4 separate regions of the Homo sapiens genome follow, and all the other regions are linked to region 1. Evidence: fine-mapped QTL for protein levels in blood plasma. A gene starts in region 1. Each other region holds a variant in brackets. All regions are shown on one strand. Distances are between the middles of the regions.

Region 1 (2,688 bases):
GCACTGCAGGCCGACCGGAGGCTTCTAGCTCGCGCCGGGTGCGTGGGCCCTCCCTGGCCGCCTGTGCCACCCCGCTGCGCGAGGCGCGGAGCCCGACCACGCCCGCGCGGACGGTCCCGGGGTGAGGAATCTCCAGTGGGGATTGAGGGTAGAGGGCGGCCGCCAGCGAGCTGCCCTCCGCGGATGGCGCCCAGCCTCCCCACGCTGGTGCCCCTCGCAAGGAGAGGTGGCCGGGAAAGGCAACGGACTGAGGAAAGCCGGCTCACTGGCCGCGTCGCCACCGCGTCCCTGAGTGCTCAGAACTTACCGAGCGAGCGCGCCGCCCAGATCTTTTCCCGGAGGCGCCCGCAGCATCTGCGACTCGGGGAGGCAAAGGAGCCGGCACCGCCTCGGACTGGCGCAGCCCAGGAGCGAGAGCACCGCGGGGAGCGCGGGCGGCGCCCCCAGGGCAGGCAGATCCCCACCGAGCAGCTAGCCAACGGGCAACGCTTCTTGCAGGAAGGAGGGAGGGAGGCGAGAGGGAGGAGGGAAGTAAAGCGGGAGGGAGGAGAGGGGAAGAAGGGAGGGAGGAGGGAGGAGGGAGGGAGGAGGGAGGAGGGAGTGAGGAGGGAGGAGGGAGGGAGGAGGGAGGGAGGGATCGCGTCCCCCCTCTCCCTCACTTATCAATCACCCCACAGATCAAATATCCGGGCTGTGCACCCAGGACGGGGATGTAAGAGCCCACAAAGGAGCCGCTGCTCCATTTCTCTGACAAGCGCTGCGGAGCACTGCTCACGCCTCTCGGTCCCTCTTGCCTGGAACTCTGCCCAGCCCTTGCGGCTTCCACCCTGGGCTGCAGCTCGGGCTCGGTCAAGTGAAATAAGAATGGCACACGGTCGGTACCATGTCCAAGGGGAGACTAAGACTACTGGGTGGAAGTTAACGACAAGTGAAAGAGCAGTCAGCCATCCGAGCTGGACACCCTCCGGGACAGCTGCCTCCCCTAACTAGTAAGCGCCCAGTCTTTGGGAGTTCGCAGGCAGATATTTAAGAACCTCCTACGAGGATCGTAAACAAGGACTTTCAACATAAGATAGAGCTGAACTTGAGTTGTGCAAGTGTGTTAACAAAGCAAGCCCTTAGCAGCGTTCCAGTGCCCATTTTGATTCCCTTTATTCTTCACGACGACGTTGCCTGGATCTTCTAGAGCGTGATTTTTGCCATCCTCCCTTCCCTTTTCTCCTTTCTTCTTCCTCTTATTAGTAGTCCAGGTGGTTGTGATTCTATTAAAGGAAGGCGCTCTGTGAAAAGAGTCAGTGTAGTTCAAGAGGGAGGTGCGGTTTTTGCCAAGAGCATTGCGTTTCCCCTCAAGACTTGCTTTCTCTAGGGCCTCTCCTCTACTCTTCCAGAGTATTCGAGATAAAGTTGCAGTTTGATAAATTTATGCCAGGAGTAGGGAGTTCATTTGATGACACTAAGTCATTTTCCCCTCCATCCTGTAGGAGAACGTCATTAATTCAAGTCGTTGCCACCCCCTATCCTTTTCATGCCCGCTAGAGTCTGCAAAACCCCAAATCCTTCTTACTGTCGAAAAGCGTGATGGTGGAGAGCAGACGGGGAGGCGAGGAGAGAGGTGCAAAATTAGACGCAAAATTACCTCTCCAGCTAGTGGATCTGCATTGGAATTTGTCTGTTTCCATATTTCCCATGCCTTTCAACTCGTTCTCACAGCACTGACAACCACCTTTTTCTTGTCCTTCCCGTGGGAATCTTTTGTGCTTCTCCTGTCCTCTCTTCTTGGCTTTCTTTCATAATGGTTTTCTAAGGAGATTATGCTGGGCTTTTTAAAAAGAAAACTACTGGCAATCTTATATTATGAAGATGTACAGAGTTTGCTTTAATAATAGTCGGAAGAATTATAATCGTATCTTCGGAGTTGTAAGGGTCATTACTGTTCCTTTTATTTCATTCTTGAGAAAGCCTTTTTGAAATCTTCCTACCATTCAGATAAGCAACTTCGGAATAACATAGTTCTCACATAAGCACGTGGGCAGTGTATGTACGGTTATATATCCAGAAGCATTGCTCTTCTTTTTACAATATCTGTATTAGTGTAAACATCCAATGTGCTGTTTGCTACAGACTAAAAGCAGTGCACTGAGCACATCATATTATTAACTAAATGAGGTCAGTTAATACTGTTACTTCTGTCTTTACCGTATTTCTGACTGTGTCATCTTTTCATGTCGCTTTTAGTAGATGTTATAAACAACTGCAAAACACAGAGCTAAGAGGCCATTCCAATACAGAAATAATGAGACAGTCATGCTGAAAAACTCAGACAGTTTACTAAGAAGGGTGATGTGTCTGTAGCCAAAGGGAACATACAAAATAAGCAAAAACTTCTATACAGAGTAGAGAAGGAACATGGCATTAATGATGAAAAGTGATACTTTATTTAGATCCAGTAGTAACATGTAATAGATGGCATGCATCAATTTTAATTAGCCTTGTAAGCAAGTCTAACCTGTTCACCAGCCTTCGAAAAGCATTTAGCAGCCTGCCTTTCCACATGGGACCACACTGATAGTAAGACAAAATTAAAAAGAGCAGACTTTTCTTTTTGTCAGCATAAAATTTTCAAGTAGGTGGATAGCTGTGCTTTGAATGCACAGACACGAAAATTGATGAGCAATATAAAACTTTCTG
Region 2 (2,688 bases), 170 kb after region 1:
TCATTATATAGAGTCTGTAGTTCATCCCAGATGCACAAGAAATATTCTTTATACATATTCATATTCAGTGAGATAAAGCTTATGTTTTACCCAAATAAGTGCAAAGTCCCCAAAATTAACTTCCAATCATTTTTCTATACATTGAAACATTTGTCTTTTGTTCATGATTGTAATATAGAATTCAGCTTATTCTGAATCCTTTAGGCTGTATCCCACCATGGTACTAAAATCTCCACCCTCAACTGCTCTGGTAATTAAAATAGCATTAACTGTTTTAGATAACTTAGAATTATATTAAACATATAATTTCTGAAGCCCTTTTCCAGTGTGTATAAGTTCCCACCTAAATGTGTATCCATTTGTAGCACTGTATTACAACAGAATTTGTTTTTTTCGGAGAGATACTTTGTTTCTGAACAACAGAATTCTAAAAGACAGGTATTATACAAGGCGCAAATAGATTTTGGGATTTTTTAAATCTCGAGATAATTAGTTGCCTTTGATTAAGAGAAGTTTATGTTTGTGTACATCAGTCAATCAGTCCATGAAATCTATTTATTTCCTACTGCAAAATTTTTTTCAGCAAACAGTATCTATGAAAACATGAAAGTTTCCATGTAGCTGAAAATCATCACCCCATCGATTCTTGCCCCTTTCACCATTAGATTTTATTTTTTGCCATGAGAACTCTCTGTTAAATATGTCTTTTAGAGAGAGGTTGTGCAGTGCACCTCTAGACAGGATTTTATCCTGGCACCAGATTCACAAAGGCCTCCCCTTAACTTCTGGGCTGTTGATGGGGTCTTATGCATTTAGGCTCACCTCCGTCTCAGAGCTCCTCCCTGCACATTGCCTTTTCCATTCTGTGTAACACTGATAAAGTAATGCACCCCAGCCTCTTCGTCAGTTGCCACATATGCATATACACACCAACCATACTCATACAAAATATGTGCTGGTATGTTAAAGTTCACAAATTTGACTGGAGTGGAAGGGCACAGAGGAGTGGTGTACCTTTCAGCAACAGAAAAAAAAGTCAAATTCAACATTTTGGCATGCCTGATTGTATTAGTTTTTTATCGTTGCTATAGCAAACTGACACAAGCTTAGTGGTT[C/T]AAAACAAAACAGATTTTTTACAGCCCTTGAGGTCAGAAAGAAATCTCACTAACATCAAAGTGTCAGCACGTCTGGTTTCTTCTGGAGGCTGCAGAGAAGAATGTGTTTACTTGCCTTTGTCAGCTTCTAGAGATGGGATCATGGATCATTTCTCTATATTCAGAGAATCGCTCAGACTTCTGCTTCCATTATTCCATCTGCTTTTTCTTGCTTTGATCTTCTGGCTTCTCTCCTATTAGGATCCTTGCTATTACATTGGGCTCACCATATAATTAAAGATAATCTCCATGCTCAAGATCCTCGATTTAATCACATCTGAAAGGTCTCTTTTGCCATGTACTGGGCATTAGGTTGTGTGCATCGTGGGTGGAGATCATTTAATCTACCAAGAACAGAGATAACAACATATAAAAACTTTCTTTTCCTTCCTACCATCAGGGAAATTTTACTGCAATTTACATAGTGCCTCAGTCTCATACATCTTAATAGCTCCTCTATTCTCTCCTCCCCCCCCACCCCTCTGTCAGTTTTTCTCTTCACCATGTTTCTCCTAGATTTCTCCAGGTAACTTCAAACTTGTCCTACTTCTTATATATAGCCATTCAACTCTGTTTTACTATTACAAGCTAACTCTAATTCAGGTCTACCTTCGTCCATCTGAAATTATCAAAGTTTAAGCAGAAAGGCAGAGTTTTTCATTTAACTGGAACCATTATCTCTAATGAATGAATGTAGAAGGAAAAAAATACCCTTATATTATGTACAGCTTTGGCCCTAAGACCTAGAGAACTCCTCCCTATTATAGTCAACTGAGCTGGATATTATTTGAATTGTGAAAAGTTGCCTTTTCTTTTGTCTCAGACTATTTCTTGGTCTCTTACCCTTGGGCTTAGCCAAAGTGGGTATTTTTTTCTAAGGTCTGGGCGAGAGACTGCCAAAGTCAACCATCCTGTGTAGCTCATGTCTTTTAGAACTTTTAGAGCTTTGAGAATTCATCTCCTATTACAACGTCTTTCCAGAGTAGGAACAGAAGGCTTCTCACCTAGAGGCTACTGCAACATTATTTTACGACATTGAACAGATAGGAAGGACGGACCAGAGAAATAACAAAAAGGGAGTTGTTATTTCAGTGGTGTTCCCCAAATTGCACATGTTGAAGTCCTAACCCCTCGTATCTGAGAATGTTATCTTATTTGGGAGGAAGATCTTTGGAGATGTAATCGGATTAAGACAAGGCCATTATGATGAGTACTACATATAATAAGACTGATGTATAAAAGGGGAAGATGGCCGTGTGAAGATTTAGATAACAGAGGAAGAGATTGGAGGGACATTATACAAGCTAAAATATGCCAAGGATTGATGGCCACTACCACCAGAAGCCAAGAGGCAAGGAAGGATTCTACCATACAGGTTTCAGAGGGATCGTGGCCTTGACAATACCTTAATTTTGGATTTCTAGCTTTTGGAACTGTAAGACAGTAAATGTTGTGCTAAGCAACCCAATTCATGCATGGTACCTGCTATAGAAGTCCTAGGAAACAAATACAGGAGCCAAACACAGAAAACTGA
Region 3 (2,688 bases), 23 kb before region 1:
AAGCAATTCGCGTGCCTCAGCCTCCCGCATAGCTGGGATTACAGGCACTATGCCTGGCTGATTTTTTTTTTTTTTTTTTTTTTTGTATTTATAGTAGAGGTGGGGTTTCACCATGTTGCCCAGGCTGGTCTCGAACTCCCGAGCTCAGGCAATCAGCCTATCTCTGCATCCCACAGCGCTAGGCTTATAGGCGTGAGCCACTGCGCCTGGCCTTGAGTGCACTTTTGCTAGGTCTTCCTACCTAGAGTGAGTCAGTGGCTGCGGCCTCTGCCTTCTCAAGGCACTTGGTGGGTGCATCCTTCTTTCATGGCATTTACCACTCTGCATTAGCATTCGTTTTATGCATGACTTTCTGCACCACTTGATTGTGATCTCCTTGAGGATTAGAGCCAGAGTTTTGCATAGTGTTTAATAAATGTTTGTTACATGAATGAATGAATGAGTTAATGAGTTAATTATTTCCCCCGGCTATGGACCTTAGTCGGCATTCAAAACAGTCCTTCCCCATTTGGGAATCTCTTTATTTCCATATAGTATAATGAGGCCTCTTAAGTTTACCAGAGGTCTGGGAAAAGGAAATGTAATAAATGGGAAAGTATTTTTAAGTTGGCATGTGTGGGCATTAGCTTAAACCTTTTAAAGACAGACGTTACACTCCAGAAAACATTATGAATGAGAATGCTGGAAAAAAAAGTTTGTTGCATAATAGCTAGGAGTGAAAAGTTCTTTTCTTTGTTCCTGGGAGCAATAAAGTGATAACCCATATCTCAATCTCCTTCCCACACTTGCTCTTGTCAGTGTTTACCATATGAAAAAAAAAAAATCAAGTTATTTTATCCAGACTTCTGGTCACCTCCAAAAAAATGAGAAGGAATATATTTTCCTATTAATTGTGCTTGATTTTATAATTTTATGAAGATCAGGTGAGATTTACAAGTATCTCGGGGCAGCATGGTTTAAAAACAAAGTTACCAGCTGTAGGTAAAAAGTGTGTAATTAACAAAACTGGAAATTTCTTCATCTAAAATTTAATTCACAGGATCAATTTAGTATTATTTGAATGATGGCACAATTTTTAAAGAAGAATTGTGCATTTTTAAATCACGGCTAGTCTTAGGACCATTTTTGTTCAATGTATATGACAGATTTGGAGAGACTTTGATCTCATTACTACTTACAGAAAAAATAGCCTTTGGCAATATAAGATATGTTATGTTTTAAAAAAAGTCACACTGCAGTTTTTAATCTACCAGTTCTAAGGATAACTAAAAATAAACATAAGGAATTCTTGATTTGTGGTTTTAAGAATTAAGTCAGAGAGTTATGTACTTATTCACCAAATCAGCTTTTAAAGTTTATTTCCATAATCATTACTTGGTTTGATCGTTTGTAGCAATCATGAATGAAATTCAGTAACATTAAGGTTATTAGGGAAAGAAACAAAATAAAACAAAACAAATAATGCCAGAAGTTTTATAAGTCACAAGCTAGCTCTCTACTGTGATTCAGCAACTTTTAGCAATTGAATCTAAATCC[G/A]ATTCAAAGCTTTCTGAATCTGTAGCCATCAGACAAGCCCCAGAGCTCGATGAAAGAGGCTTCTGGTGCCTGAGTCCACCCTTCCATGCTTGAAGTAACAAAGCAGCCAACCCAGCGGTATAGCTTACCTCTCCTCCAGGCTCGAGGCCTCTGCACAACTTGGCACTATTGGGATTTTGTCAGATTAAGGAATCAATGGACAATGTGCTGAGTGCTTTTATTTAAACATAAATACATAAATAAATGTAAGCCCTAACCGTAGAGCCCAACATACAGTCTGAACTGCCTAAGTCACACCAGTGCTTACACAGCCCTTCAATAAACTGATGTGTTTTCAGGTCAAAAAGACCAAACCCGTAAATCAAGGCAATGCTGTCCCTATGACTTATTTGCATTCTGAGTGAGACACACGGTTTTAGGTCTTGTGAAAACAGAAGACTGATATGCAATCCAGTGGCTTAGGGTTCCAAACATGCCAGCTTCAAAGGCAGCTGTGAGGTTTGCCTGTGAACTCCTCCTATGTGTGGGACAAATGCTAGTTAGAAATCTTTGCATGGGCATTGGGGGAGTCTTTGCTTGTACAATAATGTCCTAATGTGACCTTTTTCATTTACTGTTTAAGGAGTTTTACTATGAGTAATTAAGAAAACTTATCCGGATGCCATTTAATAGAAATTCTCAAAGCCTTTTGAAACAATTTTACCTATAATAAAGCAATAGAATGAAACCAAAATATCCATCCTGTGAATCAGGATTCCATCATTTCTACACCTGCTGTAATGTATTGCGTCAACTTTTCCAAGTTCTCTTCCCCTCAAAATGCTCCTTTTTCTTTATGTTCTCAAATGAAGAAAACTCTGCTCCCTTCGTCGTCCTTCACTTTCGAGGCTGCTCTGCTGAGTAAAATCTGGCCCCACTTGAAGTTATTCTTGTGGCCACAGCATAGGTGACAGAGGTAAATGGAGAGTTTTTAAAAGTACACAATTCCTTTCTTACAAAGCCTCCTCAAATAATGCAAGCCATTTTTTACCTGCCCTAGAAAAACTAAATTGCTCTTCTTACATTGCAAAATCATCCAGCTACTCTCAACAGCTCTGCACTATTGAGATAACAACAGACTTTGCACAGAACAGAAAAGCTGCATTGCCCCCC
Region 4 (2,688 bases), 450 kb before region 1:
CAAATACATCTGTTGATTTGCAAATTTCCTTTCTAACATGTAGGCCCTTTAGAGGTAGAGACTGTGTCTTTTACCCTTTTTTCACCCAACCCTATACTCTTACCCAGACCAAGCACACAACTGGGAATAAAAGTCTATATTAACTGAAAGGAAAAACTGAACAGGAGGAATCTAAGATTACCACCATATGCGTTGTGGTTCACCCAAGGGCTTCATTCATTGGACATTTGCGGCTAAGTGTTGGTTTTGGGTAAACACGGCTTTAAATCAGCCCTGGTCTCAAGGAGTTTGCTAGGTAGTTAAAGAGCAACACGTATGTGCAGTGAACTGTTGTGAATCCTATGAAGGAGGTATAAGAAGCCCAATGGCAGGATTAAGGAAAATGTGATTTTCTCTCTTGGATTAGGGAGGACTGCATGGCAGAAGAGGTATACACCTAAAAATACAGTAGCCTGTATCTTTAAAACAGAAAATGAGTAATAAGTTTTTCTGTTGGTGCACACAGTGAGTTATGTTCAAATAAAAATGAACTAGGAAGGCAGTAGGGATTTGTCCTTACTTTTCACACTAGTAAGTACAGAATCCATAGGCGGATTTTTGATATAAAATTTTTTCAACTAATAAAATGTCAGCAATGCATTAAAAATTTTCAGAGAGGAGAACTATGAAATAAACATAATAAATCACTTTAGTGGTAATAAAACCAAGATGAATCAAAGCCCAGTGTCAACTTTGCAGCTATCTTTGAACAATCTCGTATCTTGAGAAGAAATGTCCACATAATTCCAAAACCTTATGGACGATAGCATTAAAATATTAAACAGTTTTTCATTTAAAAGCCTTGCCTGCCTCACGTTCTATAGCTTCTCAATTCAGAATGTGAGTTTTTGCCTGGAAGTTGCTTTATTTCTGCTGCAATATAATTTTAGAGAATTTTGTAACTGAATACTAATTCAGAAATCCTTCTTACATATTTTAATTCCCTAGATGGAGTTTAATTTCTTTGCTATGACTATTCAAGCTTTTTGAAATAAAGTAGCGTTTAAGGTGCACAGATTTATCCTTTCTTTGGGGCATCTTAAGGTCTACTGATATCAAATGCTATGTGTAAGTTACCCACAAGTTTAATGATTCCCACTTTTGTTAATGAAATGTTTGCACAGCTGCCACAGTGTGTACAGGAAGATTAAAACCTGCTGTCACTTTGTTAAGAGAAGCCTAGGGGAGACTGAACACAACTGGCCTGTGGATTAAGGAAACCTGGGAAAACCAAAACCGTCCATTAGTTTACAGGAGCTTCAACCTGGGAACTAGAAGCAGGAAA[G/T]AAGATGTACTGACCTTTCAAGTGAACTGAAATCAATTAACCCCAGTACCTGTCAACTTCTTGTGATTTGTGCTTATGCTGTGGTCACCTTTATCGCTCCTATGAATTCTTATCTGAAAACAAGTTCTTCATTGGTATAAGATGAAGTGAAATAGCTGAGCTGAGAAAGCAGTTTCCCATCAGAATGGCAAATGCAGTTCCTGTCAAGCAGGTTACAATCTTTGAAAAAAAAATTAAAATAAAATAAAATGAAAGGCTACCAAGATAGACCAGGTCAGTAATTTGACAAGTTGTGTCCTGGGTGTAAAACAAAGTAAAGGAAAATGTTCTAGGAGATATATGCAGATCCAGCAAGAGTGAATGCGCTGTTGCCCAATCTGTGTCAAGCACTGTGAACAGATTTGGGGCGGAATAGCTTGTCACTTACTTGAAGACGAAAAGAACTGCCTGTCTATAAGTCTGCAAACCCTTCTGAACTAATAACTTAAGGGCAGAGCTGAGGGTGTGCAGAAGGCAACAGGCACAGCAGGCTTGGAAGATTTCACATCTTGACTCTTTGTACTTGAATGAGTCTTTCACTGAGGAAACAGCATGCTTTAGAGAAGCAGACAGGGCAGCAGAGAGGACCAGAAAGTTTAAGGACTTGCCCAAGGCTGGTCAACTTGACCTTCACAATACGAGGGATGAGGGAAATCAACCTCTTTATCCAAACGACCAGACCAAGATTCCCTCAGCAAAGCACACTTCTCTTGGAACACTAGGGAGGCACGCTGGTCAAAGGAAGACCAGATGAAAGAATTAAAAAGAAACAAACAGTGCTATTGAAAAGAGAGCGCAATGGGTTGAGTTGATAAAAGAAAGTTTATTGATTTTAGAACAGTTACAGTTTATTTCAGCACCCAAACTCATTTGCAGAGGTACTGATGCACCCATGTGCAAACCTGAGTTGTCCTCACTGGGGGCTTGCCAGGCAGAGGGGAGGGTTTCTCCCCTCTCCTATCTCTTCTGACAATCTTTAAGTTGAGAAGCCACAGAAAGGTGGAATTTATTATTAGTACAAGAGGCTTGCGGCTTTTGGGGGTATTTCAGTGCAGCTGATGGCTGGTCTGTGTTTTGAGAGTTTCTGAATTGAAAGTTCTCTGCCCCATTTCCATCAAGAACCACTAAGTGAACAAGCCAGCTCTTCACTTCTTCACTTGTAAGTACTGCTATTGTTTGTCAACAGTATGTTCTAAGGTGAAGGGCAGTTTGCTTTCAGAAGTCATCAACTAAATTCTCCTGGCAGACAAGCAACAAGACAACAGATGGATGCTGCCGGAAAGTCGTGCTTCCCTCTCACTCCTCCCTCCCACCTGCTGCCAGCG

Which allele goes with the higher level. Positions count from the first base shown, and alleles are read on the strand shown. Strength reflects both the effect of a copy and how common the allele is.
As copies of T replace C in region 2, the plasma level of the protein whose gene starts at base 505 in region 1 goes up (weak association).
With allele A in place of G in region 3, the plasma level of the protein whose gene starts at base 505 in region 1 is higher (moderate association).
In carriers of allele T in region 4, the plasma level of the protein whose gene starts at base 505 in region 1 tends to be higher than with G alone (weak association).

Evidence for each region. PIP is the posterior inclusion probability: the model's chance that the variant is causal. The UK Biobank Pharma Proteomics Project read protein levels with antibody pairs (Olink). The fine-mapping took linkage between variants from a reference panel, not from the people measured, so its PIPs are less certain.
Region 2: its variant is fine-mapped to the plasma level of the SLITRK2 protein (UK Biobank, PIP above 0.99).
Region 3: its variant is fine-mapped to the plasma level of the SLITRK2 protein (UK Biobank, PIP 0.98).
Region 4: its variant is fine-mapped to the plasma level of the SLITRK2 protein (UK Biobank, PIP 0.92).

What each region holds. Positions count from the first base shown.
Region 1 is chrX:145,815,646-145,818,333 of GRCh38, reverse strand. It overlaps SLITRK2 (SLIT and NTRK like family member 2), which reads right to left and starts at 505. Exons shown (of 5, transcript NM_032539.5): 1 at 308-505.
Region 2 is chrX:145,646,158-145,648,845 of GRCh38, reverse strand. No RefSeq gene overlaps it. Among named protein-coding and RNA genes, the nearest start is that of SLITRK2, 170 kb to the left of the region's middle. The variant C/T (reference allele first, on the strand shown) is at 1,116.
Region 3 is chrX:145,838,351-145,841,038 of GRCh38, reverse strand. No RefSeq gene overlaps it. Among named protein-coding and RNA genes, the nearest start is that of SLITRK2, 22 kb to the right of the region's middle. The variant G/A (reference allele first, on the strand shown) is at 1,537.
Region 4 is chrX:146,264,963-146,267,650 of GRCh38, reverse strand. No RefSeq gene overlaps it. Among named protein-coding and RNA genes, the nearest start is that of MIR891A, 240 kb to the right of the region's middle. The variant G/T (reference allele first, on the strand shown) is at 1,325.